Regions from separate parts of the Homo sapiens genome. Here regions 2 and 3 are each linked to region 1. The links come from fine-mapping of genetic effects on gene expression. Tissue or cell type: whole blood. Region 1 holds a variant in brackets; each other region holds the start of a gene. All regions are shown on one strand. Distances are from middle to middle. Region 1 has its middle 8.1 kb from the start of PGBD2. Region 2 holds the start of ZNF692 (zinc finger protein 692). Region 3 holds the start of ZNF672 (zinc finger protein 672).

Evidence for each region.
Region 2: ZNF692 starts here. The variant in region 1 is fine-mapped to the expression of ZNF692 in whole blood (TOPMed, PIP above 0.99).
Region 3: it holds the start of ZNF672, and the variant in region 1 is fine-mapped to the expression of ZNF672 in whole blood (TOPMed, PIP above 0.99).

Annotation. Positions count from the first base shown.
Region 1 is chr1:248,894,070-248,902,249 of GRCh38, forward strand. It overlaps a transcript of PGBD2 not described here. Among named protein-coding and RNA genes, the nearest start is that of PGBD2, 8.1 kb to the right of the region's middle. RefSeq lists a silencer at 1,803-1,985. The variant G/A (reference allele first, on the strand shown) is at 3,438.
Region 2 is chr1:248,855,285-248,863,438 of GRCh38, forward strand. ZNF692 (zinc finger protein 692) reads right to left here and starts at 3,801. Exons shown (of 12, transcript NM_017865.4): 1 at 3,634-3,801; 2 at 2,847-3,037; 3 at 2,544-2,575; 4 at 1,950-2,213; 5 at 1,230-1,278; 6 at 1,004-1,138; 7 at 441-662; 8 at 274-351; 9 at 96-174. The coding sequence starts at 3,025. ZNF692-DT (ZNF692 divergent transcript) reads left to right here and starts at 3,880. Exons shown (of 3, transcript NR_186117.1): 1 at 3,880-3,962; 2 at 7,345-7,503. RefSeq lists enhancers at 2,606-2,685, 3,286-3,335, 4,136-4,285, 7,617-7,876 and a silencer at 3,496-3,995.
Region 3 is chr1:248,834,477-248,842,656 of GRCh38, forward strand. It overlaps ZNF672 (zinc finger protein 672), which reads left to right and starts at 3,748. Exons shown (of 4, transcript NM_024836.3): 1 at 3,748-4,075. RefSeq lists enhancers at 3,682-4,183, 4,184-4,683, 4,381-4,650, 4,991-5,070 and a silencer at 3,691-4,090.

The DNA of each region.
Region 1 (8,180 bases):
CTCAGGTCCTTTGCTCATTTTTATATCAGGTTATTTTTGTTTTTGCTATTTATAGGAGTTCCTTATGTTGGAAATTAACCCATCATCAGATATGTTCTTTGAAAATATTTTCTCTCATTCTTTGGGTTGTCTTTTTATTTTATGGGTTGTTTCCTTTGTAATGCTGAAACTTTTTAGTTTGATATAGTCCCACTTGTCTATTTTTGGGTTTTTTTTGTGGTTTTTTTTGCCTGTCTTTTTGCTGTCAGATATATGAAATCATTGCCTGGACCTAGAAAAGTCAAGGAGCTTTACTTCTATGTTTTCTTCTAGGATTTTTAGGGTTATATAACTTACGTTTTAGTGGTTAATCCATTTTGAGTTAATTTTTGTGTATGGTGTAAGACAAGACTCCGATTACATGCTTTTGGATGTGGATATACAATTTTCCCTATTTATTGAAGAGACTATCATTTTCCTATTGTGTATTCATGGCACTCTTGTTAAACATCAGCTGACAATGTATGCATGGGTACCTTTGCTGATTTTAACCTGTATTCTTTCACTTTAATAAGTCAAAACTCACTGTAATGAATATACACATTTTCTTTTTTCTTCTTTTTCCCTTTCTTCCCTCCCTCCCTCCCTCCCTCCTTTCTTTCTTGCTTGCTTGCTTGCTTGCTTGCTTTCCTTTCCTTCCTTCCCCTTCCCCTTCCTCTTCTCCTTCCTTCCTTTTCTCTCTCTCTCTTTCTTTCTTCTTTCTTAGATGAGGTCTCGCTCTGATTGTCACTGGCTGGAGTGCAATGACACAATCATAGCTCACTGCAACCTCAAACTCCTGTGCTCATGTGATCCTCCTGCCTCAGCCTCCTGAGTAGTTGGGACTCCAGGTGTGTATGGCCTGCATCTGGCTATTTTGTTGTTGTTGTTAATTTTTTTAGAGATGGGATCTTGCTATGTTGTCCAGGCTGGTCTCTAACTTCTAGTCTCAAGCTATCCTCCCAACTCAGCCTCCCAAAGTGTTGGAATTATAGGCTTGAGCCATCACACCCAGCCTATAACAACTTTTCTGAGTTCTGTAAGTCCTTCCAGCCAGTCATTGAACCTGAGAGTGGTCTTTGGGTCAACCAACAACAGGCCAATGTTTGGGAACTTAACAAAGAGAAAGAAGCCAGAGGAGTGTGACTGTGGCCACAGTCTGGTTTTCCTCTGATTTCACAGGGACCAGTCCTGCCCACAGAGTGCTAGGCCTCCTCTTTGGTGGTGAGTAGCCCCCATATTTGTGGCTATACTGCCAGCCCAACCTGGCACACAAAGAGGAGGAAGGACAAAGAGGAGGAAGAAGGTCTGAGTAGCAAGGGTTCTGCTGCTCAAGGAAGCAAGACTACCTTTAAGAATTGGCTCCTGTTCTGTTCCCCAATCCAATAATCATCCTCGTGTCTGGTGCTGTTAGACATTTAAGGAATTAAATATCTTAATGATATTTAAGGCTTGCAGGGTATTTTTTTTTCTTCATTATTTTGGAGGAAACAGGTGGTTCTTGGTTACGTGGATAAGTTCTTTAGTGGGATTTCTGAGATTTTGGTGCACTAAGATTTTGGTACCTGAGCAGTGTACACTGTACCCAATGTATAGATTTTTTTGTTTTGTTTTGTTTTTAGACAGAACCTTGCTCTGTCACCAGGCTGGAGTGCAGTGGCGTGATCTTGGCTCACTGCAACTTCCGCCTCCCAGGTTCAAGCGATTCTCTTGCCTCAGCCTCCCAAGCAGCTGGGACTACAGGCACGTGCCACCACGCCCAGCTAATTTTTGTATTTTTAGTAGAGACAGGGTTTCACCATGTTGGCCAGGATGGTCTTGATCGCTTGACCTTGTGATCCGCTCACCTCGGCCTCCCAAAGTGCTGGGATTACAGGCATGAGCTACTGCACCCGGCCCACTGTATAGTCTTTTATCCATCACGCCCCTCCGACCCTTCCCCCGCCCCGAGTCCCAGAAGTCTATTATATCATTCTTATGCCTTTGCATCCTCATAGCTTAGCTCCCTTATAAGTGAGAGCATACAATATTTGATTTTCCATTCCTGAGTTACTTCACTTAGAATAATGGTCTTCAACTCCATCCAAGTTGCTGCAAATGTACGGCTTGCAGTTTTATGCAGTTTTAAATAGGCTCCCTGGTTCTCAGGCCGTTGACTCAAATTGGAATTACAACACTGGCTTTCCTGGGTCTTCAGCTTGCAGACAGCAGATTTTGAAACCTCTTAGTCTCCATAATCCATAAGCCAATTTCTCATAAATCTTTTCATATATACATATATATATATATTCTCTTGGTTCTCTTTATCTGGAAAACTCTAACTCTCACAATCATGCATACGTTTATCATTCCTTATGGATATTCTTTTTCTTTTAGAGATGGGGTCTTGCTCTGTCACCTAGGTTGGAGTGCAGTGGCACGATCACAGCTCACGGCAGCCTCAAGCTCCTGGGCTCAAGCAATCTTCCTGCCTCAGCCTCCTGAGTAGCAGCACACCTATAGCTCCAGCTGCTTCTAATTGGCCATCTTGGCCCCTCCCTCCTACAAAAAACTTTTAGAGGGAAGGGACAAAATTACTGATTAGAAGCAGCTGCAGTCTTCAGCGCTCACCAAGAAGAATGAAAATGGTAAGTGCATTCTATACCTTCAACTGAGATATCCAGTTGATATTGGATGCTGGCTAGGCAGTGACCCATGGAGAGCAAGGAAAAGCAAGGTGGGGCGACAGCCCACCTGGGAGCTGCATGGAGCAAGGGGATCGCCCGCTCCCAGGCCAGGGAGGCCGTGAGGGATTGCACTACCCCACCCAGGAAATCACACTTTTCCCATGGATCTTTGCAACCCATAGATCAGGATGTAAAAAGTAAAGTAGAGGTTCCTCTTCAAAGATTTTCCTCCCCATTTAATTAGGAATAAATAGTAACTTCTCTTAGAAGCAAAATTTATTCAAAGACCTGTGCTAACATTCTTAAATATCTGCTAGCCGTGGTAAAGAAATCAAAGTACTTTATGTCACAATTTAGCCTAAATATTTGCCCTAGCATGCTTATGCTGGTCCAAGCAAGCATTAGGTGATAGCCTGTTCCTCTTCCTTATGTGAAGGTGCTTTTTACCTTTCTCAGCATTCCACCAGTTACTTCCTCCTTCCTTTGTTCCCCTCTACCTTTGCCTCTTTAAGAAAGTTCTAAGTTGCTAGCCGATCGGAACAAATACAGGATGTGAGGTCCCGTGCCAGCCGATGGAAACCAGACACAGCAGTAGGGTGGATGCGTCAGGTTATAAATGACCCTGTCTTCTTTGTTTGGTGTACTCTCATGGCAAAACTGCTGGCAAGCATACCTTTTCTGCAGTAAGTAAAAATGGCCTTGCTGAGTAAATTAAATGTATGTTCAAGTGCTATTTCTTTACGGCACTGGGGA[G/A]CAAGCATTTCAAACAAGGAGATTCCTTCTTGAGCCTATGCCACCAGGGCCTTGGGTCCCAGGCACAGAGCTGTGCAGACCTGGTGGCCACTCCAGTCAGCAGCTGCTCGGGAAGGCACAGAGATGCAGGAGTTTTTGCATGCTGAAGCTTGAAAATTCCTGTGAGGCAGGAGATCTGTCTGTTCCTGTAGGAAGGGGGCTGAAGCCAGGAACCCAAGGGGCATCTTTCAGTGGGCTCCACTCCCACAAAACCTTACCAGCTAAGACCCACTGGCTTAGAAATCCCCATGGGCCAGTGGCAGCGACTGGAGACTGCCTGAGATGACCGAGTTCCTGGGGAAAGGGGCAGCTGCCATCTCTGCAGCTCCAGTTGGCTATTTTGCCCTCCTAATGCTGGGGAGACTGGGTGGTTTGGACCGGGAGGGATTCCCCACAGTGGAGCTCAGCAGCTACGGCAGGTTGTGGCCAGATTGCTTCTTTACATGGGACCCCGACCCATTCCTCCTCACTGGGTGGGGCCTCCCTGTGGGAATTTCAGCAACTCCAGCCAGGGTTTAATGGACAGAACTCTGATCTCCCTGGGATGCAGCCCCTTGGGGGAGGGGCAGCCATGGTCTCTGCAGTTCAGCCGACAGCCTTTCCCGCCTGCTGGCTTTGGAGAGTCTGGGCAGTCCAGATGACAGGGGTTCTCCCCAACAGTGTACCAACTCCACCAAGGGGCAGCCAGACTACTTCTTCAAGCAGGTCCCCCCAATCCTATCCCTCCTGACTGAATGAGACCTCCCAACAGGGGTCTCCAGACACCTCCAGCAGCATTTGGGCTTGAATCAGGTCAATGTTCCTCTGGGAAGGAGCAGGCTGCCACCTTTGCTCTCCTGACCTCATGATCCGCCCACCTCGGCCTCCCAAAGTGCTGGGATTACAGGCGTGAGCCACCGCACCTGGCTCAACATTTTTAAAGAAAAGAATTTCAAACCCAGAATTTCATATCCAGCCACACTAAGCTTTATAAGCAAAAAAGAAATAAGACCCTTTTCAGATGAGCAAATGCTGAGGGAATTCATCACCACCAGGCCTGCCTGGCAGGAGCTCCTGAAGGAAGCACTAAATATGGAAAGGAAAAACCGTTACCAGCCACTACAAAAACACACTGAAGTACACAGACCAACAACACTATGAAGCAACTACATAAACAAATCTACAAAATAACCAGCTAGCATCATGATGACGGGAACAAATTCACAAAGAAAAACATTAACCTTAAATGTAAATGGGCTAAATGCTCCAATTAAAGGACAAAAAATGGCAAACTGGATAGAGTCAAGACCCATCAGTATGCTATATTCAACAGACCCATCTCACATGCAGAGACACAAATAGGCTCAAAATAAAGGGATGGATGAAAATTTACCAAGCAAATGGAAAACAGAAAAAAGCAGGGTTTTTTTGTAGTTTCTGACAAAACAGACTTTAAACCAACAGAGATTAAAAACACAAAGAAGGGCATTACATAATGGTAAAGGGTTCAATTAAACAAGAGGAGTTAACTATCCTAAATATATATGCACCCAATACTGGGGCACCCACATTCTTAAAACAAGTTCTTAGAGAGTTACAGAGAAACTTAGACTCCCCTACAATAACAGTGGGAGACTTTAATACCCCACTGACAATATTAGACAGATTATAGAGACAGAAAATTAACAAAAATATTCAGGACCTGAACTCAGATCTGAATCAAGTGGATCTTATAGATATCTACAAAACTCTCCACCCAAATTCAACAGAATATACATTCTTCTCATCACCACAAAGAACTTACTATAGTTGAACATGTAATCTGAAGTAAAACACTCCTCAGCAAATGCAAAAAACTGAAATCATAACAGTTTCTCAGAACACAGTGCAATCAAATTAGAATTCAAGATTAAGAAACTCACTCAAAACCACACCACTACGTAGAAATTGAAAAACCTGATCCTGAATGACTCCTGGGTAAATAATAAGGCAGAAATCAAGAAGTTCTTTGAAGCCAATGAGAACAAAGAGACAACACACCAGAATCTCTGGAATGCAGCGAAAGCAGTGTTAAGAGGAAAATTTATAGTACTAAATGCCCACATCAAAAAGCCAGAAAGAGCTCAAGTCAATACCCTAACATCACAAATAAAAAACTATCCCCAAAGCTAGCAGAAGACAAGAAATAACCAAGATCAGAGTAGAAATAAAGGTGATAGAGACATCAAAAACCCTTAAAAAAATCAGCAAATTCAGGAGCTGTTTTTTTTGGGAAAAAAAAAAAAAAGTAAAATAGATAGACTACTAGCTACACTAATACAGAAAAGAAGGAGAAGAATCAAATAGATATAATTAGAAACAATAAAGGGGATATCACCACTGACGCCAATGGAAATATGAACAACCATCAGAAAATACTACAAACACCTCTATGCAAATAAACTACAAAATCTAGAAGAAATGGATAAATTGCTGGATATATACACCCTCCCAAGACTGAACCAGGAAGAAGTTGAGTCCCTGAATAGACCAATAATGAGTTCTGAAATTGAGGCAGTAATAAATAGCCTACCAAAAAAAAAAAAAAAAAAAGCCCAGGATCAGAAGGATTATAGCTTAATTCTACCAGAGGTGTAAAGAGGAGCTGGTAACATTTCTTCTGACACTATTTCAAACAATTGAAAAGGAGGGACTCCTCCCTAATTCATTTTATGAGGAAAGCATCATCCTGATACCAAGACCTGGCAGAAATACAACAACAACAAAAAAACAGAAATCAGGCCAGTATCCCTGATGAACATCAATCCAAAAAATACTCAATAAAATACTGGCAAGCTGAATCCAGCATCACATCAAAAAGCTTATCCACCATGATCAAGTTGTCTTCATCCCCAGGATGCAAGGTTGGTTCAACATATACAAATCAATGTATGTAATTCATCACATAAACAGAACTAAAGACAAAAACCACATGGTTGTCGCAATAGAAGCATAAAAGATCTTTGATAAAATCCAACATCCTTCATGTTAAAAACTCTCAATAAACTAAGTATTGAAGAAAATACCTCAAAATAATAAGAGCCATAGATGACAAACCCACAGTCAATAGCATACTTAATGGTCAAAAGGTGGAAGGAATCTTTTTAAAAACTGGCACAAGACAAGGATGTCCTCTCTCACTATTCCTATTCAACATGGTATTGGAAGTTTTGGCCAGGGCAGTCAGACAAGAGAAAGAAAGAAAGGTTATTCAAGTAGAAGAGAGGAAGTTAAATTATCTTTGTTTGCAGGTGACATGATCATATATCTAGAAAACCCCATTGGGTCAGCCCAAAAGCTTGTTAAGCTCATAAGGAACTTTAGCAAAGTCTCAGGATACAAAGTCAGTGTATGAAAATCACAAGCATTCCTATGTACCAAGAACAGACAAGCAGAGAGCCAAACCATGAATGAACTCCCATTCGCAATGCCCACAAACAAAATAAAATACCTAGGAATAAAGCTAACAGGGGAAGTGAAGGACCTCTTCAAGGAGAGCTACAAACCACTGCTCAAGGAAATCAGAGAGGACACAAACAAATGGGAAAACATTCCATGCTCAGGGATAGGAAGAATCAATATTGTGAAAATGGCCATATTGCCCAAACTAATTTATAGATTCAATGCTATTCCTATTAAATTGCTATGGACATTTTTCACAGAAATAAAAAAATATATTTTAAATTTCATATGGAACCAAAAAAAAGTCCTAATAGCCAAGACAATCCAAAGCAACAAGAGCAAAGCTGGAGGCATCAGGGTACCCGACTTCAAACTATATAAGAAGGCTATGGTAACCAAGACAGCATGGTACTGGTACAAAAATGACACATAGATCAATGGAACAGACTAGAGAACTCAGAAATAAGACTGCACACCTACAACTATCTGATCTTTGATAAACCTGACAAAAACAAGCAATGAAGAAATAATTCTCTATTTAACAAATGGTACTGGGAAAACTGGCTAGCCATATGCAGAAAACTGAAACTGGACCCCATCCTTACACTTTATACAAAAAATAACTCAAGATGGATTAAAGGCTTAAATGTAAAATCCAAAACTATAAAAACCCAGAAGAAAATCTAGGCAATACCATTCAGGACATAGACACGGGCAAAACCTTTATCACAAAAACGCCAAAAGCCATTGCAACAGAAGTGAAAACTGACAAATGGGATCTAATTAAACTAAAAAGCTTCTGCACAGCAAAAACAAAACAAAGCAAAAAAACCACAAACCATCATCAGAGTGAACAGACAACCTCCAGAATGGGAGAAAAATTTTGCAATCTATTCATTTGACAAAGGTCTGATATCCAGAGTCTACAAGGAATAAAAACAAATTTACAAGAACAAAAACAAACAGCCCCATTAAAAACATCATTGATCATTAGAGAAATGCAAATCAAAACTATAATGAAGGCTGGACGAAATGGTTCATGCCTGTGGTCCCAGCATTTTCAGAGGCCAAGGCAAGCGGATCACTTGAGACTAGGAGTTCATGACCAGCCTGGCCAACATGGTGAAACCCCATCTCTACTAACATTACAAAAAATAGCCAGGCATGGTGGCACACACCTGTAGTCCTAGCTACTTGGGAGGCTGAGGCAGGAGAATTGCTTGAACCCAGGAGGCGAAGGTTGCAGTGAGCTGAGATCGTACCACTGCACTCCAGCCTGGACAA
Region 2 (8,154 bases), 39 kb before region 1:
AATCCTCCCATGCCTTAAGATCCTTTTCCTCAGTTTTTCTTTTAGCCCTTTCCCCCACCCCAGCAGCCACACAGGCCCCAACCTGTGCCCCTCACATTCAAATACTGCCGGTTGGAGAAGATCCTTCCACAGCCAGGGAAGTCACAAGGCATCAGCTCTCTTTTGGCAGCTTTCCTGAGGAGAAGAATGGAAAGGAGCAGCATGACTCCTGCCTGCCCTTCTCTGCCTCCCTCCTCTCGGCCCTCCCCAGAACCCCATCTCCCTAAGTCCTACCTAATTCTCTTGGGGCCAATTTGTGCAGTGTCCTCATCCCAGGCCGGGGTTGGAGCAGACTGGGCCTGACTCCCAGTGCTACGGGCAGCAAAGAGGGAGCAGAGGGCCTCGAGGGAGGGCCACATCCCAGGACGCCCCTGCCCTTTCTGTCTCAGCCATCAGGTTACCTGGCCAGGGCCTCAGTCTGCTGGGCCGCTTGAGGGGTCCTGCTGAGCTGTGGCTGCACCCTGACTTCTGCAGGTGGAGGAGCTCTGGAACTCAATGAGGATGCTGACAAGGCCGGCACAGCAAGAGGACTGGAGAGTGCTGCAGGGGCTGGTGGTGTCTCCCCCTCTTTAGGTGTGCAGGTGACAGGGGAAGGCAGTAGTCTGGGGGCATCAGGCTCACTACTGAAAGGAGAACAAAGAGGAAGATGGCATTAACTTTCTGGGCAGTCAGCCATCCCCTGCCCGACCCTAGCCCCTAAACTGAAAAGATCTCAAACTTGAAACAACCCTACCCCCACCCTAGGCTCCCCATTCATATCTGCTTTCAGCCCTCAATCTCCCTGCACCTGACTTCACCCCTTTTCACCCCCTCAGTTCAAAGCCTCTAGTTCTTTTTGCCTTCCCCAAAACCCACCCTTCCCTCCACACTAACAAGCCCTTCCCTCTAGTCTGCAAAGCCATGAACTGCCAGGCCAGCTGCCTCCCTCTCTTGCTCTGCTCATTCTCCCTCAACCCCAACTTGCTCATCTGGGGAGGAGCTGTAGGTCCATAAGCTGGCATCACTGAGCATCTCCTCTTCATCCTCATCATTGTCCTCTTCTTCCTCACCCTCTTCCTCTCCTGGAGGTGGGAAGGTCTCTGGTGGGGGTCCCACCCTCCTGCAGGCCCAAAGAAGGCAAGCCTGAGGTCCTGCTCCCTCATCCTCCCACCTATGCAATTCCGCCTTTTCTCTCCTATCCACATCCTCACCTGGGCAACCTGGCCTCTTGAGTCCTCTCATCATGCTCAGATTCCAAATCTGTGGGACAGGCAAAGTCAAAAGAGAAGGAACTCTGGACTCAAGGGATGAGGACACATAAAGTTCTAAGGTCTGAAGTGATGGGAGACTCCTCTTTTTTTTTTAAATAGAGACGGGGTCTCACTATGTTGCCCAGGCTGGTCTCAAACCCCTGGGCTCAAGCAATCCTCTTGCCTCAGCCTCCCAGAGTGCTAGGATTATAGGTGTGAACCACTGCACCCAGGCAGAGACTTTTAAGAAGGAGGAGGAGGGAGCAGAGGCTATCTGAGTAGGAGGAGTTGTTCTGTTTCAGAGATGATATTCACATAGTTCACAAAACTATACAGTCAAAAATCTCCTTTCCAATACTGTCCCCCATCGCCTACTTCTTCCCATAGGCAACCTGGTTTTCTATGTGCCTTCCAGAGATATGTCATACATTCGCAAGTACTTACACATACACACACACACATTCACTTTCCCCTTATTTGTATTTTTCACCAATGATAGCATACCATACACTGTATTTTGTTTTGCTTTTCATGCCCAACAGTGTATTTGATGATATATTTGTCAAGATAGAGTTTTTCCATTGAAAAAGGATCATTTTTAGAGAACAGGGTTCTGAGCTACAGAAAATGGGAAACGTTTTTCCTCCCTTTTCTCCATAACTCTGCTTTTTTCCAGCCTACCTGCAAGCTCCTGCCCACTCGTGGCCTCGGAACACCAACTTCTCCGAGTAGTATGTGGAAGGGAGGCTGGCTTGGGTGCCTCTGAAGGTGTAGGGCTCAAAGAGGGTCCCCAGGAGAAGGTATGGCCTGCTGAGCACTCCCACACAAGCCCCCCATCTTGGCCGCCAGGCCCCCGAAGCCCGGGCACCAGGCTGCACTCTCGGCTGTGGGCATGAGACAAGAGCACCAGATACTGCAGACCTTTTGGAGGCAAAGGCTCAGGACCTGGAGGGGTGGGGGAAGCAGTCAGGCTGAACTGGGAAGTCTCCTCCTCTTACCCTGGAGAGCCATACCCAGGGAGCCCTGTTCCCTCAAACCCCAGGGCAACCTCAGCCCCAGTCCAATTTATCATTCTTCAGAACCTAGACACACTAGATCCTGAGACATTGCTCCCTTCCCCACCCAGAGGTTGCCTCCATCAAACTACCCTGTGCTCCCCAACTCACCCCACCCTTCCCAAACTTACTCAGGGCTCCCTTTGAAAGGAGGGTGTTTCTGGGTCACCCTGTGGTCCCTCTTCCCTCTGGCTCTCACCCCCTGCCATCCCCTACCTACCTGCACAGAGGACACAGCCTGAAGAAGTGTACCTGCCAGCAGGAGAAGAGGCAGGTCAGGACTCAGGTGGCCAGCCACCCTCAGCCCTGGGCACTCACACATGTAAGGGGCCAGCCCTAAGGGCCGCTATTCGCTGAGACCATGAGGAGGGGAGCAGGACCCTCGGAGGCCACAAGTCACACAGGCCGTCCTGGTAAAGTGAGAAACCTGAGGGTGGAAAAGAGCAGCAGGACAGGCCCTGGAGAGGAGGCTAGGGGCTGCTGCCTGGGTACCCTCCCCCAAGCCCTTCTCCCGGCCCCTAACCGGTCCAACAGGAACTTGGCGAGCTGCGAGTGCAGGGAGAAGCCCAGCCGCTCCTTGAGGAGGCACCACTGCTCCATGTGGCCGCCCAGGCGGATGCGGCACTTGCTGCGGCGCGCGTCCAGCTGCCGCCGCTTCTCCCGCCGCCTGCAGGACACGTCCACCGCCGGGGAGGAAGCCATGTGCACCAGAGGCTGGAGGGTGGAAGGGACGTCTTCAGCGCCCTGCCGATCTCGGGGGTCGGGGACCCGGCTCCACCTGCCGTTAGGGCCTCAGTTTCCTCATCAGTGAACTGGGGCAAGACTAAACTATTTCAATAGCAGTGGCAGGTGTGGAGCCAAACCCCGTCCTTCTATGATACAGGGTGTTGAAGCTCAGCGCTACCATGTGAGTGTCGTCGGGTGGGAGGCAGGCAGACAGAAGCAGTCAGAACAAAGGCCTGCGCCCTCCAGTCCACTGAAGTGGAGCTGTGGGGAAGGGGCGAGAGACTTTCACGGGAAATTTCAACTGGGCTGGGGGCGGTCCACACATTTCATCTTGAATAGGGCAGCGGCCTTTACTGGTTTCTAGGGGAAGGAAAGGTCGTGTCCTGGCGTGCAGCTGGGGGCGCTCTTCATAGTTGGGTCGAGTGGCGGTGAGGCCGTGGTCAGAGGTCTGGAGGGCGCCCCCCATCCACCCCGTCTTGGGCACCCCCACTTAATGCTGACAGTGAGTGGAGCGGACTAATCCCAATGGCAGTTCCCAGGCTGCCCAGAGCCCCCGTCGCGACCCACCCCCACCCCGGCCTTACCTGTGCGCCCCCACGCGCCCTCACCCCCACTGCGCCTGCGCCTGCGCCTCCCGGGCCTAGCGAGCAGGCCCGGAGCTGCTGGAAGACAGGGGCCCACCTCGCGCGCGCAGCGTTTCTCTTTTAAGAAGAAACGGTGCCTCTCGGCGTCGGCTGCTGTAGCCCGGAACTGAGGCCCGCGCCCCAGAGGGAGGGGCGAGTCGGAGGCCGACGCCGTGCGCCTGCGCACTGGGTGCCCCGCGCAACGCCCGCCGGGAATCGTGGTTGCCCGACTCAAGTCGCCCGCGCGTGTCGCGGAGCCCCGCGGCAGTTGTGGTTGGGTGGCTTCTGTGGTGAGCGTCTGCGCTTGGTGACCAAAGGTTTGAGGGAAAGTGGAAGAGACAGGGTCAGGCCTCCTGTGCTCCAACCCCAGCCCACCCGGCCTGTATGGGGACGTTGCCTCTTCACTTGTTCCCGTTTTGTATTCACCTTCGATTTCCCCCTCACAGTTGCCACCCGCAAACATGATGCAGAATCAGTCACTTTGAAAGACCCACAGAGGGTCCAGCTAGAGCCCTCTGTGGACCGCAGAGTCCCACCAGCTACAGCCCACTTCTATTACCATCAGAATTCCTCCTAAAAGTTGCCTGCATTCTCTGTGTACGCTCACTTCCCATCCTCTTCTCTTCAAATGGCTCTGATGGAGCTTTCCTCCCCACCCAGCCACTGCAGTGGCGCTTCACAAGGTCACTTGAGACGGTCATATTGCTACATAGCAGCTGTCAGTTCCGTCCGCCTCTCTGCCCTAGAAAGAGCGCGACTATGTAGCTCTCGTCCTCCTCATCTTTATGGCTCCCTCTACATTTTGGGCCCCAGTTTTACTTCTGTGACTTCATATGCTCCAGGTTTTCCACCCTCCTCACTGGCTCCTTCTATCCTTTTTTTGGATCCATTCCCTCTGTTCTGCCAAAAGATGAAGTGTGCCCTGGCTCAGGCCTTGAACCAGATCTTCTCTCGTCTGCATATGTTCTCCTGGGTGATCTAATTAGTTCCATGGCTTTAAATACACTGATGGCTCCTAGCCTAGCCCTCTTTCAACTCCAGTCATATATCTTACTGCCCGCTTGACTTACATGTGTTAACTGAGCTAACACGTGTAAAGAATGTAGGACAGTGCCTGGCATGTAGAGAGCGCTGACACATGATAGCTGATATTTTCTCCAACATAAATATGGCAAACATATAACAATAACGCCTGTACCCTCCCCCATGCCAGTAAACTATGTCATCATCCACCCACTTGTTCAGAAAAAAGGGAATCAGCCTTGATTCTTTGCCTTTTATGATACCTAAACCATATACATCAGCAAATCTTGTTGGTCCTGTCTCCAAAAATTTATCTTAAATCCAATCACTTCTGACCCTCTCAACTGCTAAAACCCTACTCCAAGCCACTGGTATTAATTTTCTGTAATTGTTGTAACAAATTGTGTTGTGTGTTGTTTTCAGCCACAAACTTGCTCCCTTTACTCAAATTTATTTTCTCACAGTTCTGGAGGCCAAGGCATCAGCAGGGCCACAGGCCATTGTAAGGGCTCTAGGGGAGAATCCTTTCCTTGCTTCTTCTAGCTTCTAATGGTGGCCAGCATTCTCTGACTTGTGGCCACGTCACTCCAATCTCTGTCTCTGAGGTCACATTGCCTCCTTCTGTGTCAAATCTCCCTCTGCTTCTCTCTTACAAGGATGCTTGTGAATGCATTTAGAGTCCATCCTTATAATCCAAATAATCTCTCCATCTCAGTATCCTAAGACAATTTCTTCTGTAAAGTATTTGCCATATAAAGTAATCGGCTGCACACGGTGGCTCACGCCTGTAATCCCAGCACTTTGGGAGGCCAAGGCGGGTGGATCACTTGAGGTCAGGAGTTTGAGATGTGCCTGCCCAACATGGTGAAACCCTGTCTCTACTAAAAATACAAAAAAAATTAGCTGGGCATGGTGGCATGGGCCTATAATCCCAGCTACTCGGGAGGCTGAGGCAGAAGAATTGCTTGAACCCAGGAGGAGGAGGTTGCAGTGAACCGAAATTGCACCACTGCACACCAGCCCGAGTGACAGAGCAAGACTCCATCTAAAATAAAATAAAGTAATCTCCACAAGTTTTGGGGATTAGGACACAGATATCTTTTCTGGGACTATTTTTAAGCCTACCATACCACTATCATCTCTCACCTGGTCTGTGGCTACATCTTCCTAATGGATCTGCCTCCTACTTTAACTTGTACTCTCACAAAGCAGGGAAAATTTCCTCAAAGATCAAATCTTTTGCTTAAAATCTGTGAGTGGTGCAATCCAAAATCCTTATCATGGCCTCAAGGACCTACTTAATTGGGCCCTTGGCTTCTTCTCTGGCATCATCCCCCAACTTTTCCCACTTTGTCCTCCCACCTTTTTGCTATTTCTCAAGTGTGCCAAGTATCCTAGAGGGAGTTCTTTTGTCTCTGGAGCACTCAATTCTCCCCTCAGCCCCCACCCCATCCCCCAGCCCACCACCCAGCTGTTCATCTGTTTGCTCCCTTCTCATCTTGTAAATCTCGGCTATAAGATCACCCACTCAGCTATAAAATCCCTCATTCAGAAAGCTCCCTTTCCTCAGTCATGCTCTACCTCACTGTGCCCTATTGTATCTTCTTCATGGCACTTACTTTCTGAAATCATCTCAGGGACTTGTTTGTGTGTTTGTTATTGGTATACGATGATTGTTGACTAGCCCAGCCTTCTCCTCTGCAGCCTAAATATCTCAAATGACATGGTGTGCAAACATGAACACCCTTAGGATGAGCCCAGTGTGTCCTGTGCATATTCCTTTTGATTTGTGGTATCAGTGACTCAACATACTTGTCTGACTAGTGTAAGGTAGGAAGGAAGATGTCCCAGCTACTTTACTCATTAATGAATGTGTAACTTTTCCAGCTACTTTACTCATTAATGAAAGTGTAACTTTCACATCAAAAGAGCAGGACTCCATCGAGAACAAACTTTATCCTTTCCTCATGGTCCCTTAATAGATATCTGCAAAATCCTTGTGGTTTCATCCAAGGGAATGAAAGGTCTTGTAATTCTTGGTTACTCTTAGAATGTTGGGTCTCACTTTGAGACCCAAGAACATTTTTGGTTCTCTTGGTTTGATCTTGTTTAAAATAATAAAATGAAATTACTGCCAATGCCCAGCTCTTCAATAACCGTCTCCAAATAAATCTCTCAGCCTCTCTTTAATTTCTTATATCATCTAGGTAAGGAATGAGCCAACTCTCTCAAAAACAGTCACCAGCCCCTTCCTTTGTAAGTGCTGCAAGGGAGTGCTAACATTTTAAGGAGGGGTTCTCTGTAAACATTGGTTCTCTGCCTTTAGTGACCTCATTGCAGTCTGAGACCTTGAATTCCATCTTAGCATCCCATTACAAAGGCTAAGATTAAATGTGAGCTATTTGTATTTTTGTCACTGTTGAGCTTTACAGTTTACAGACTGCTGAAACTGCCAATTCTTTTATACACATAAAAGGGTCCATGTGGAGGACATATTTATCTTCATAACATTTATTTTTCCTGGACTATGCATGGCACCATAGCGCTCTTCTTATCTCCTGCTTTGGCACAGCCAAATCTAATATTGCTGTACCCTCTGAACTTTTAGTATCTTCTCTCCAAAGAGAAAAACTACTTTCCACTCTCCAGATCCAAGGAGGAATGAGCCAAATTGCTACAGAAGTTGAGTCAACCCACTGCCCTCAAATCCTGAGATGTATTCCCAGTGGGAAAAGGAACACTCCTTCAGGACTTTGTACCCCAAATTCCACGAGACCCACAGACACCCTCAGCCCAGCCCAGCTCCAGGTATTTGCATGAACCTCCCTCTTTCTCAGCCCTCATCCTCTCAGTGACTGGTGTCTTCATCCTCCAACTAGTCATCATTGCTGGGAGTGCAATTCCGTTTCCCCTGAGCCCCTGACAACTGAAGGGTGGTGCCTCTACCCTGAGTCTGATCATGCCCTAGTGCGGCTGACCTGGGCGCTCTGTGATGCCATGTGGCCCAGGTAGGGTGGGGTGGTATACAAGAGATGCGGTTGCCCTTGCTCCTGGCTGGCCCAGCTGCCTGGGTTGGTCCTGTTAGCTTTGGCTCCGGGCCGGAGGGCAGACGACATGAAGGAGGAGGAAGCCAGCCGCCAAGAGACTCGCCGTGGTAAATTCAGCGTCTGCAGGGGTGCTTGACGCGGCGGAGCCCGCGACGCCGGCAGCGGAGCGACATGTTGCTCCTGGTGCTGAAGCAGCAGCTGCCCACCCTCGCTGTGGTTGTGCTGATGGCAGCAGCAGCCCGTCTAGGGTGGCCACTGCCGTGATGCTGGCTGCAGCGCTCCATGAAGCGAGTGGAGCCAGGAACAGGCAGAAGCCCCGCCCCCTCCTGAGTTGATAGGGTGGGACCTTCGCGCTCACGGGTGCAGCCTCTGCCGCCCGGCTGTGGCTGCCGACCAAGGCCTCCCTGTGCTC
Region 3 (8,180 bases), 60 kb before region 1:
TCAGTTGCCCCCAACAGCAACGTAAGCCATGTACTATGTGCCTGCTCTGCATGCCTATAACTTTTACTTCCCTTCCTTTCTGTCTCACTTCATAAACCACTGACAGTGCCCTCTAGCCAAACATAACCACCTTGATGCTGTTTGACTTACTTCAGCATTGGACATTGTCCACCACTTCCTCACATGGGAATCTAAAACCTGACCGTGTCCTGACCTTCTTCCTCCCCAAAGCCTTTACTGGCTTCCCCTTCTGCAGCTGCTTCCTTTTGGAGGCTGGTGCTCTAGGTATGGTGCCTTCAGCCCCTACTAATCCACCTATAGCCTCTTAGAAATGTCATCCACGCCCACGGCTTCGCGTATTCGCCTCTAACTTCCTAGTCTTTACAAATCCTGATACACCATGGCTCCTCCTCTTCTCACTGAGGGAGGCCTACACCCTTGGGTATGGGATAGACTCTATACTGTAAAGGAACATAATTTATTCATCTCTATATTTCTATTACCCAGCCAGGTGCAGACTCAGTGGGTCCTCAATAAAAGCTTCTGAAAAGGAGGAATTCCTTGATTTAGCCCAAAACTTATTTGCATTTCCTCTTCCAATACCTTCACCCACTCTACCTTCTTGAATTCCTGTCCCACCCCACTCAGCATCTTCCACAGGATTCTGAGCCTCCTCCACTCACTCAGTCTGGATTGAGTGCATGCTCACTCCCTTCCTGTTCATCTAATCCCTCTGCCTGACCCAGTCCCATCACTTATATTGCAGAAATCTGCCACTGGGGGTGTGTGGTGGGAGGTGAAAATCATTGTCACCTCCATCCACAGATCCCTATACAAAATCTTGGCTACATGCTGAGCCAATGAAGTTTACTGATGACCTATTGCAGAATTACCCTATTCTTCCTGTTGTACCTTTATACCACTTTGTACTTTGCACATGATGGGATGGCAAGGTCTGTGGGCGGGGGGAGCGGTTGCCATCCCTCAGCATGTCCTCAAAGGACTCAGTCTCCATTTTGTCTCCGATACTCAGCCCATTTCTTTGCACATAGCAGGTGTTCAGAAATGTGCATCCAGCCTCTGACTCTGCCCTCAAGCTTATAATTTAGTAGGAGAAATAAAGTATGCACATTATTCTAAAGTACATGGTGGCCAGGCATGTTGGCTCTTGCCTGTAATCCTAGCACTTTTGGAGGCCGAACACAGCAGATCACTTGAGGCCAGGAGTTCAAGACCAGCCTGAGCAACATGGTGAAACCCCATGTGTACTAAAATTACAAAAATTAGCCAGGCATGTTGGTGCGTGCCTGTAGTCCCAGCTCTTTGGGATGCTGACACACAAGAATCACTTGAACCTGGGAAGCGGCTTCAGTGGGCCGAGATCATGCCACTGCACTCCAGCCTGCGTGACAGAGCAACACTCTATCTTGAAGTACATGGTAAAGGATGTAAATAACAGAGTAAGTGTCTTATGCATCTTGTGGCTTGCAAAGATAATAAATACTTAGGGAATTTCTGGGTGAACAATACTAGTGGTCTTCAGAAAGAAGATAGTTTTCACTTTGAGAGTGGGTTGGTGTTTGAACAGAAGTCTGAAGGATAAGTAGGACTTTGGTAGACAAGAAAAAGTGAAGGAACAGGAGAAGTGTATGCCAAGCTGAGAGAAACGTAGAAGGTAGGTGGGGAGTGATCCAGTTTAATGGAGAGTTTAAGAGAACAGACTGGAAAGACAGGTTGGAATAGGTGAAAGAGGGTCTTGAATATTACACCAGAAGAGTAAACTTCATTTGGTGATTGTACAGACTTTTTTGACTATTACTGAGCAGGAATGTGATACAATCAGAACTTTGGGGAGATTCATCTGGTAGGTTCACAGCTGTTATCTCCAACGTCTAGAATACTACCTGGCATATAGTAGACCTTCCATAAACATTTTGAGTATTTACAGAACCACATTAAGAGTTGTCATTTATTGATGTAGATGTGTAGAGAAATAAAACCATTTGGATGTGATATTTTTAATTGACAAATATACACATAACTTCATCCTTGAACTTTCTTTCACTACCCTCCATCTTCCTGTTACAATTATCATCCCCCACTGTGATGACTTCCATAACATAGGAAACCTAAATCCAGCTTCCTGTTCTTTCCCCCCATTGTTTGAGTTTTTCCCTCCAAAGCTACACAGAAGAAAGTCATCTAATCCAGTCCTCTTTCACATGAAAGTTTGTTAGAATTTGTGTACAGTCATTATGTGCACAAAAAATGTTTCTCTTTCTAGGTTAAATATCCCCAGCCCCTTTAATTATGTGACCACCCTAGTCACCATCCTCTTCATGTCTCTGGGATTAGCCAAGTGTGTCAGTGTCCTTAAAAACATGACATCAGTACTGAGCAATGAGTCCAGAAATGTCTAAATTAGTACATTTCTCTGGCTTAAAGACTCTGGAAATATCCTCAACTAATCATTCTCTATATAATACTACCTTATCTGTGTATGATTCTTTACAATAAAAATATATATACTTCAAGCGCATTTTCCATGTCTCTCTCAATGTTATCCCTTCCTGGTTCAGGCCCTGATCACTCCAGACCTGCATCCTGTGTCTTGCTTTTCAGCTTTCTTGCCTGCTGCTACCAGATTTGTCTTCCTTAATCCGTGTTGTCATATGCGGGTCAGCAAACACTCATTGATCATCTGTGGCGTGCTGGCCCTCTGCTCATGCTTCAAGGGATCAATTGTTCATGAGTAGGACAAGGCCTGTCCCTTAAGCTATGGGGGAACAGTATTCATCTGACTATAACAACAGTATCAACATGCGGGAGGTTGCGCTGCAGCATAGATATGTCCCCAGGACTGAGGACAGAGAGGGGCATTCTAGCATAGGTTTATGGAGATGGCATTTGACTAAGGTTTTACAAATTAAAACAGAGAAGAGGGTAAGAGTTTTCCAGGCCAAGCATGGCAGGTCGAAGTACACTAATTAGGGGACCCCCTGAGCAGAGCTCAGAAGAGTGGTACTAAGTGACCTCCAAAGGAAGATTACAGCAGTAAAGGACCTTGAGGGCCATCCCTGGGCGTCTGTTCTGATGATATAGGCACACTAAAGGATGGCCAGGTTCCCAAAATGCATTTCCGGAAAGGAATACTAGTAGCATTTCCTAGTAGAAGACATTAGGGTCAACATTTGGACAGGCAGTTCAACCAGGAAGCTCATGGAGAGGCAGCTGGCAAGCCGACCAGGAGTAACCCCTATCCCTGGCATTGCGACTTTGGGCGTATCATTAACTTGTGGGGTCCTTACCTAAAATACAGGATAAATGCTCATATTTCCCCTGGCAGGGTTGTGGTGAGGGTTGAGAGATAATAGCTATCCAGTCTGGCCTCACTTAATAAGAAGGCGCTAACTTAACTACGGGGATGGCTGCCGCGGCCCCGTCCGCGCCGGGCACCGGCTACCGCGCCGGAAGCACCGAAGGGTACACCTGTCTGTGTCCCGCCAGCGGCCGCGGGAAGAGCTGCTGGAAGACTAGACGGTGGACCGCCTAGCTCCCGGGACTCCGCGGCTGGGGGCTGAGGCGCGCGCAGGGATCGGCGCCCTTTCCTCTGATTGGGCGGGACGAGGCCCAGGGGTGGGCCAACAGACAAAGCGGGAGGCAGGAATTGGTTAAGCCAGAAGAGAGGGCGGGGCCTTGGCCCGCGCGGGAGGCGGGAGTGGAGTCCCCCCGCAGGCTTTCTCTTTTAGCCCCGCCTGCTTCCCGGCTCCAGCTGGGGCCGGAGAGGCTGAGTGGTTGGTACGCTGCTCGCTGGCCTCCCAGTCTTCCCAGCAACCGGTGACACTGCCCGCGCCAGACTGACCACTAGCCGACGCGGGCGAGAGGGACAGGAGCGTGACCTCCCCATCCCGAGGGGCCGGACGCTCGGGCGCCTCCCCGCTCCCCCCACTCGGAGGCCGCGCGCGCCGTTAGCCCCTTCCTCGCTCCCCCGCCCCAGTCCCGCAGTCCGGGAGGCGGGGGTCGGCAGCCGGCTGAGTGGGAACCGCGCGGTGTCTGAGGAGGCAGTCGGCGACCGGTGAGGGGACTGAAGGGCAGGGGAGGGCAAGGGTGGCTCGGGGCAGCAGTCCTCAGCTGTGGCTAGTCTTCTCCCATCTGCCTCGGGCGACTGGTGTCTGCGGCGGTCGGGAGCGCCGCCCGGGCTGCGAGTGACGCGGGGATACTGCGGGGCGAGCGATTGGCCGGACACGTCCGCGCGGCCTGCTCCTCCCAGGCCTTCCCCTCCGCCTGTCCTCGCTGGTCCGCCTCGGGTGACCTTTTCGGGGCTGGCGTCACCACGACAAACGTCGCCAGGCTGAGCCGACTTAAGGGGGCAACGGCCGCCACCGGGTTCTGGCAGCGTTAAACGTTCCCCACTACGTTTTTGGTGCCCGGTCTCGCCCTCCAAGTCGGCTGGCGCCACGGGCAAGGGGCTAGGGTAGGCTCGGGGTTGGGAAGGGGCTCGCTCAAAGAAAGTTTGCCCAGCAACTTGTGACGCGCGCCGACTGAGGCGCCCCAGGATTGGCTGCGCTGCTGTGGGCCACGGAAAGCGACCTGTTCAGGTGCCGTGTTCCGCATTCGGCGAATAGTTGTGCTTCGCTCTTAAGTACCAGGCACCAAGTCCCCAGATGAGTAGCCAGCTTCCCTTCTTTCATCTTGGAGCCCACAGTTCGCGCAAGTGGAGCTATGGAAGGCCCATGCTGTGCTGTTCTAATCATGTGAGGGATTCTTAGGGGTTGAGGGGGAAGGACTGAAAACGGCTGCAGACCGTTTAGGATGCCTGGAGTGGAGACAGGAGTTAAGCCCCTTACTCAGAGTCGCTCTTAAGAACTGCCCAGGGCCGGGCACAGTGGCTCATGCCTGTTATCCTAGCACTTTGGGAGGCCAAAGTGGGAGGCTCTCTTGAGCTCGGGAGTTCAAGACCAGCCTGGGCAACATGGTGAGAACCCTCGTCTCTACAAAAAAAATAATGATAATAATAATTAGCCGGGTGTGGTAGCACCTGCTCATAGTCCCAGCTCCGCAGGAGGCTGAGGCTGGAGGGTTGCTTGAGTCCAGGAGGGCGAGGCTGCAGTGAGACAGTGATCAAATCACTGCATTCCAAGCTGGGTGACAGCAAGACCCTGTCTCAAAAAACAAACAAACAACAACAACAAGAAGGACTGTCCTAGGCAGAGTAAATCCTAAGCACCGGGCAACCGCAATTCTCAGTGTTAGCAATTTTTTTTTTTTTTTTTTTTTTTTGAGACGGAGTCTTGCTCTGTCGTCCAGGCTGGAGTACAGTGGCGCGATCTCGGCTCGCTGCAACCTCCGCCTCCTGGCCTCAAGTGATCCTCCCACCTCACCCTTCCCAGTAGCTGAGACTACAGACGGGCGCCACCACACCTGGCTGATTTTTGTATTTTTCGTAGAGACAGGGTTTCACTGTGTTGGCCAGGCTGGTCTCGAGCTCCTGACCTCAAGTGATCCGCCCGCCTTGGCCTCCCAAAGTGCTGGGATTACAGACGTGAGCCACCATGCCCGGCAAGATTTAGCAATATTTTGACCTTTCCATATGAAACACTATAATAATAGCTTTTTTTAATTTATTTTTTTGAGATGGAGTCTCACTCTGTCGCCCAGGCTGGAGTACAGTGGCACTATCTCGGCTCACTGCAACCTCTGCTTCTCGGGTTCAAGCGATTCTCCTGCTTCAGCCTCCCGAGTTAGCCAATACTACAGGCGCGTGCCACCATGCCTGGCTACTTTTTTGTATTTTTAGTAGAGACGGGGTTTCACCATATTGGCCAGGCTGGTCTCGAACTCCTGACCTCAGGTGATCTGCCCACCCCGGCCTCCCAAAGTGCTAGGATTACAGGCGTGAGCCACCGTGCCTGGCCAACTTTCTTTACTAAAGTTTTCCCATCCAGGAGGATCAGACATTCCAAGTCTACTGTCTAAGATCAGACAGCTAGTAATGGGAGGAACCAGAATTTGGATGCCTCTCTGGTTCTGCTACACAGGTTGCAGGCTCAACTAGTAAACCAAAGCAGAATATTTGTATGTGCAGTGCACAGTGCTGTGGAGGATATGATGACTGTAGTCAGAGTATTTGTATGTGCAGTGGATAGTGCTGTGGAGGATATGATGACTGCAGTCAGAGTACTTGTATATGCAGTGGGTAGTGCTGTGGAGGATATGATGACTGTAGTCAGAGTATTTGTATATGCAGTGGGTAGTGCCATGGAGGGTACGATGACTGTAGTCATAGTATTTGTATGTGCAGTGGGCAGTGCCGTTCAGGGTACGATGACTGTAGTCAGAGTATTTGTATGTGCAGTGGGTAGTGCTGTGGAGGATATGATGACTGCAGTCAGAGTACTTGTATATGCAGTGGGTAGTGCTGTGGAGGATATGATGACTGTAGTCAGAGTATTTGTATGTGCAGTGGGTAGTGCTGTGGAGGGTACGATGACTGTAGTCATAGTATTTGTATGTGCAGTGGGCAGTGCCGTTCAGGGTACGATGACTGTAGTCAGAGTATTTGTATGTGCAGTGGGCAGTGCTGTGGAGGATATGATGACTGTAGTCAGAGTACTTGTATGTGCAGTGGGTAGTGCTGTGGAGGGTACGATGACTGTAGTCAGAGTATTTGTATGCAGTGGGTAGTGCTGTGGAGGATATGATGACTGTAGTCAGGCCCTTTCCTCCAGGGACCTAACATTTGGGAAAATTGGATTCCAGACTAATACATCACTTTTAAAAAGCACTGAGTATCTTCTGTGTGCCCAAGTCCTTGCTAGGCCCAGGGAAGGTGTGAAAGACCTTATAGTCCTTTCTCTCTGATCTGGGGGGCTCTGGCCACTCTGGGCTTCAATGTTGCCTGTGTCTCAGAAGGACAGGACAAGCTCCCACTATGTATGTTCTCTCCTTGTCTACATCCTGTTGCCTGTGTCTCAGAAGGACAGGACAAGCTCCCACTATGTATGTTCTCTCCTTGCCTACATCCTGTTGCCTGTGTCTCAAAAGGACAGGGCAAGCTCCCACTATGTATGTTCTCTCCTTGTCTACATCCATACCTTCTCTATACTTCCCAGATTTCACAGGAAAATCTTTGTGAAACCAAAACTTTCAAAAGAATATATTTGGGCTCGGCACGGTGGCTCACACCTGTAATGCCAGCACTTTGGGAGGCTGAAGCAGGAGGATCAACTGAGGCCAGGAGTTCAAGACCAGCCTGGGCAACATGGCAAAACCCCGTGTCTGCTAAAAATACAAAAATTAGCTGTGGTAGCTCGAGCCTGTAATCCCAGCTGCTTGGGAGGCTGAAGCGCAAGAATCGCTTGAACCTCGGAGGCAGAGGTTGCAGTGAGCCGAGATCACACTGAGATGGCGCCACTGCACTTTAGCCTGGGAGACAGAGTGAGACTCTGCCTCCAAAATAAAAAGAATGTGTTGGCTCATGATCAGACTTGAGCACTTGGGCTGAGAGCAAACTGTCATTCCTATTTCCACCAGCTCCTTAGCTAGAGACTGAATCTGAAGCTGGAAGGAGCAACTTCTTTTGAAGTATTGGATTTTGTTTCTTTATGGGGGAAGGAAGCAAGGAGGGGCAATTCTGGTGCTCTGAATTCCGTTCCCCATCCGCACCTCCTAGAATAGGGCTGAAGTCTGTCCAGAGTGGAGAGGAATCCCTGCTTCCTGTTACATTCACTGACTAATAGATGCTCCTTCCAGCTTCAGATTCAGTCGGACATGTCTAAGGAGCTGGTGGAAACAGGAATAACAGTTCGCTCCTACCCCAAGTGCCTAAGTCTGATCGTGATCCAGATACATTCTTTTGAAAGTTTTGGTTTCACAAAGATTTTCCTGTGAAATCTGGGGAGTGTGGAGAAGGTATGGATGTGAACAGGGAGAGAACATACATAGTGGGAGTTTATCCTGTCCCTTTGAGACAGGATAGCCCACGCTGAAGCCCAGAGTGGCCACAGCACCCGAGATCAGGGAGAATAAAGCTGAGCAATGAGTACGAGGGAGGTGTGGAGGCAGGGGTGGCCTCTCTGAGAAAGGGTAGAGAGTCTTGAATGAAGGAGTGAGAGAGCTTTGCCAGTAGAAGGAATTGTAAGTGGCAAGGCCCCAAAACTCCCTCCTGAAGGCCAGGGAAA